2 separate regions of the Homo sapiens genome follow, and region 2 is linked to region 1. A link means that fine-mapping ties the variant in region 1 to the expression of a gene that starts in the linked region. Tissue or cell type: sigmoid colon. Region 1 holds a variant in brackets; the other region holds the start of a gene. All regions are shown on one strand. Distances are from middle to middle.

Evidence for each region. PIP is the estimated chance that this variant, and not a neighbour inherited with it, causes the effect.
Region 2: NPR1 starts here. The variant in region 1 is fine-mapped to the expression of NPR1 in sigmoid colon (GTEx, PIP 0.97).

The regions. Positions count from the first base shown.
Region 1 is chr1:153,744,928-153,747,427 of GRCh38, reverse strand. It overlaps INTS3 (integrator complex subunit 3), which reads right to left. Exons shown (of 30, transcript NM_023015.5): 4 at 358-471; 5 at 65-149. Among named protein-coding and RNA genes, the nearest start is that of INTS3, 18 kb to the right of the region's middle. RefSeq lists enhancers at 1,174-1,913, 1,914-2,500. The variant C/T (reference allele first, on the strand shown) is at 1,158.
Region 2 is chr1:153,677,422-153,680,048 of GRCh38, reverse strand. It overlaps NPR1 (natriuretic peptide receptor 1), which reads right to left and starts at 1,361. Exons shown (of 22, transcript NM_000906.4): 1 at 220-1,361. The coding sequence starts at 940. RefSeq lists a silencer at 561-620 and enhancers at 162-1,142, 1,143-2,124.

The DNA.
Region 1 (2,500 bases):
ATTGTCTCTATGTAGTCTCTGGGCTCTCCTCCTTTCTTCTTTATGCTCCTGCCATCAAACTCACCTGCAATCTGCTTCATAAACGTCATACAAACACCATCGGCTCCCAGAACCCCACTCTTCACCAGTTCCCGTACCAACCACACCAACTAAAGGAAAGAGGGAAAAACAGATGAAGAGCAGGAACTGTGAGTTTGAGAAGGGAGCTAATTCAATTACAACTGAAAGGAGCACATTACAATTTAGACACACAATGATAGGGGTGTGTTAGCCCTGATTCCTCTTTCCCGTTCCTGACAGAGAGAAGATCCATCCTCTCTCTTTGAGCTGGATCTTGTCTTTTCTTTCTGGCCTTACCTGAGTACGGCAGGTATCCTGCAGCTTCAGGTACTTCTCCATAAGTATCTGGTTGATTTTATTCAGGACAATATTCATGCCATCACGACTCACCAGAGCTAAGTCCCGGTAACACTGTGAGAAGTAAAGTTTGTGATCAGCCAGCAAGCTGAGGATAAGGTCCTCACCCCACCCACAGTGGACCCCTTGCCCTCTAATCCCTTAAACTTAAATAACACCAATAAGACACCGAGTAGCAATGAAATACTTTTCATTCTGGACACTTTCTTTCCACAGGGGTCCTGCATTCCCAACCTATCCCTTGTTCTGTCACACAGAGTGGGGAAAAGGTACTGGTTATCCTTTAATGAGGCAGAAAAGCCTGCTGGGCAGCCAGGTGCAGTGGCTCACGCCTGTAATCCCAGCACTTTGGGAGGCCAAGGCGGGTGGATCACGAGGTCAGGAGATCGAGACCATCCTGGCTAACACGGTGAAACCCCGTCTCTACTAAAAATACAAAAAAATTAGCCGGGCACGGTGGCGGGCACCTGTAGTCCCTGCTGCTCGGGAGGCTGAGGCAGGAGAATGGTGTGAGCCCGGGAGGCGGAGTTTGCAGTGAGCGGAGATCGCGCCACTGCACTCTAGCCTGGGTCTAGCCTGGGCGACGGAGCGAAACTCTGTCTCGGGGGCAGGGGAGAGAAAAGCCTGCTGGGCAAGGCTCCTAGTACTATCCCTGTCCCCCCCACTTCCCATCTTAGGAAGTGTCATACTGTTTGATGCCACAGGCTGAGCAAAACCAGGTGGAGGCCATCTGCTTTTCA[C/T]CTGCCAGTCAGTAAAAGGTCACTGCAAAATGGGTTTGGTTGAACAAGCCAAAAAGGATCCCAAAGAGGTTTTTAGACCAGTACTGACCCAGTCAGATACAGCAAAGGGAGTAGTAAGGGAAGAAGATCCAGGGCAGGGCCCTAGACAGTTAAGGACAGAACCAAAACTGATATTTTTTTGAATTTTTAGTTTTTTTATACTTGGGGTCTTACTTTGTTGCCTGGGCTGGAGTGCAGTGGCATGATCATAGCTCATTGCAGCTTCGAACTTCTGCGTAGCTGGTACTACAGGCATGCACCACCACGCCCAGATAATTTTTAAAACAGTTTTTTCTAGAGACAAGGTCTCACTATGTTCCCTAGGCTGAAACTCTTGGCCTCAAGTGATTCTCCCACCTCGGCCTCCTCAGTAGCTGGAATTACAGGCATGAGCAACCATACCCAGCTGAACTAAATATCTTTATTCTTTTCTCTGTGATGCCCTTTCCTTCTGCCACTTATTGAAAAAGGAAAGGTGCTTTAGCATACCAAATCCTGGGGGAGGTAAGGGAGGGCATGCTAATTTCTTCTGTGAGATTATTGCTTCCCTTCCCCCCTTAGTTTTTTTTTTTTTTTCACTCTGTCTCTATTGTGAGACCAGACTCCTGGAGGAATACCTTAGGGGGCCTCATTAGCAACTTCCTTAGCCTGCTGAGTTCTATCCCGTCAGGATCTCATCAGAAAGAGTAGAAACTAGGCAGGTAGCTTCCCACAACCTCTGAAGACCAGTAGCAAGGATGGCATCAAAAATAATAATCATATAGTATAGCAAGGGCCGGGTATGGTGGCTCATGCTTGTAATCCCAGCACTATTTGGGAGGCCGAGGCGTGTGGATCATCTGAGGTCAGGAGTTCGAGACCACCCTGGCCAACATGGTGAAACTCCATCTCTACTAAAAATACAAAAATTAGCTACGTGTGGTGGCACGTGCCTGTAGTCCCAACTACAAGGGAGGCTGAGGCGGGAGGATCACTTGAACCCAGGAGGTGGAGGTTGCAGTTAGCCAAGATCGTACCACTGCACTCCAGCCTGGGTGACAGAGACACCCTGTCTCAAAAAAAAAAAAAAAGTACAGCAAGGATGTTGTTATACTATAGCAAGCAATAATACAGCAAGGATGGCATCAACAACAATAATATATATATATGTATATATTACTGCATTTGATATACATAACAACCTTTTAAAATAGTACTACTTATTATAATTATTTTTACAGATGAGGAAATAGGCATGGAGAGCTTAAAAGTTATTTGCCCCAGATGACATAAGAGATTAGAGGAAGAACCAGGATTCAAATCCA
Region 2 (2,627 bases), 67 kb after region 1:
TCGGGGAGATGAGAGGATAGAGACGTGGTGGGGGTGGCGGAAGAAGAGAGGGAAATAGAAACTCAGCTGTAGAAAGGGCCAGGGAGCTGAAAGTAGAATGAAGAACGGCGAGGAGAAAGAAGAGTGCCCCCAGATGAGAGAGAAAGTCCCGATGCCTCCGGCAGGTCAGAGGGGAGGCCCTGCGGCTAAGCGGCGGGACGGGGTGTGCCAGCGTCTCACCTCGGCCTTTGCGCGGCATGGTCCGCAGCAGCCTGGTGTAGTGGCTGAGGTCGTCCTCGGCGAACTCCAGGTGGTCCACCGTAATATTGAGGCGGTCGCGGACCCGCATGAACAGCCCCTCCACGAGGAAGAAGCAGTGCTCTTCGTCACCCGGCCGGTAGGCGTAGAGCATGAGCGCTTGGCGCTCCCAGCCCAGCCGTCGGTGCAGCGCCGCCACGAAGTCCCCCAGCTTGGCGTAGCTGGGCCCCGCGCGGGTGGTCAGCGCATACTCGTCCTTGACACCGAAGCCCAGCGCCGGGGCGCCGGCGGTCAGCAGCGGGACCCGCCAGTGCGCGGTGAAGCGCCCCACTGGGGCGGCGGCGTACACGCAGCCGGGGCCCAGGAACACAGCGGGGTTGTGCTCCCACTTGAGGTCCACCGCGGCCAGGGGCGCTGCGGTGTCGGAGCAGACGCCCAGCGCGTTTTCGCTGCTGCCCAGCACCGTGCGGACCGTCCAGCCCGGCAGCAAGTCGGGGCGCGCCTTCACCTGGGCCAGGGCCAGCTCCACGGCGGGTCCCACGCGCGCCCACGACCAGGGGTACGAGGTATTGGCCAGCGGCAGTACCACGGCTACCGTCAGGTTGCCCGCGTGGCTGCCCCGGAGCAGCAGCAGCAGCGGCGGCAGCAGCAGGAGCAGGAGCAGGCGCAGGCGGGAGCCAGCGGGGCGCCGGGGCCCCGGCATGGCCTCAGCGGGCACCGCAGCAGGCGAGCGCTCCTACCATGGCCTCCTCGGTCCCCTTGGGCTCAGCGGCCGGTCCCAGGCATCAGGCGCGTCCCTATGGGAAGGAGCAGGAGCGGGACGGGGACGCTCACCCCGGGGCTCGAGGCCCCCTGTAGCTGCGACGGTCTGGGCCGAGAGCGCAAGGGGCGCGACCGAGGGGGGCGCGCAGGGCGCCGCGGAGCAGGTGGGTGCCAGGAGAACGTCGGGCTGGAGAGGACCCGAGTGTGAACAACTGGGAGTGTGCGTGCGTGTTAGAGAGAGAGAGAGAGAGAGAGAAAGGGTGCGAGTGAGCGCTTCGTGAAGAAGGATGAGAGAGGGCGCGCGAGGGAGGAAAGAGGAGTGTGTGTTTGTAGCGTGCGTGAGCGCCTGCCCCAGGGAGTGTGCCAGAAGGGGCGTCCGGCCGGCCCAAGTCTCCGGCTATCCGGAGGGAACCGTGGAGGACCCGAGCCAAGCTCCGAACCCTCCCTCCCAGCCGCTTCCCCTCCCAGACTCAGTGACAGAAGAGCCAATCCAGGATCTTTAACTCCTTCCTCCCCGCCGCCCAGCCCGCGCGCTTCCCCGTGGACCATCTTCCCCGGTCTCGGCCGCCCCACGCCTACCTCTTTGGAGGACAGGACCCTCTGAAGGTGCGCCCTCGCCGGGATGGAAAGGACGGCTGAACGGAGGGTGTGTGTGGAAGCAACCGGGGCCCACTTGCGCCCCACCTTTTCCCTCGCCTCCTACCTGGTCTCCTCGGGGGAAGAGGGAAAGGTGTGCTGGTTTGGGATCCTGGCAGGAAACTGAGTGAGTGCGTGGATGTGTGTGTTTGGGTGTGGGGTGGAAGGTGACGGGTTTCTGGAAAGTCCGTTAAAGTTGAAGGTGAGCCCAGAGTGCTTGTTACCCATTCCTTCTATGATCTCCCTCTCTTTCCCTCCCTGCCACCTTCCAGACTGTGCAGATTAGCTGTGAAAAAATGATCTGGTGTCAGAGAGGAATTAAATCTTTAGCGCCCAAATTGTAGGAAGATGGGGAGAGTGGGTGGGTGTCTGGGAGGGAGGAGGTTCACACCTCAGGGACGCCCCAAGAAAATGACTGTTTTGTGTTGAGGGTTGTTAAAATGAAGGCTGTGGGAGATGACCACTGGAGGCGTAAATTGGGGAGTGGGTTTTGGAGCACTTGACAGCTGGGCCCCCGGTGCAGACTGCTGTGGAATCAGTGTGCCCTCTAATGGTCATCGGGGGTTATTGACGGCATTGCAGCGCCAACCTCTCCAACGCTGCGCCTAAGCAGGACATAAGATCACCAAACTTCAGGTCAGCAAACATTTCCAGAGAACCTTCGGTGCATTAAGCACCCACTAGGTGCCGAGGGCATAAAGATGAATATATATAGTCCGTGCCTTTGAGGAGCTCCATTTGGGACAAATAACCGTAATGCAACATGCATTAAGCACTACAGGGGAGACATGGATAAATTGCTAAAGGACTCAGATGAGGGCTATTCATTCTGCTTGGATTGGGGCCAGAAAATCTCCAAAAAAGAAATAATTCAAGAGGATGGAAGGATGAGAAAGGTATTCTGTGTAGACAGAGCAGAATGTTGAAGTACATTTCCTATATATGGAATTTTAGGAGACTTGAATATTCTTATTATCTAGAGCAAATTGTGG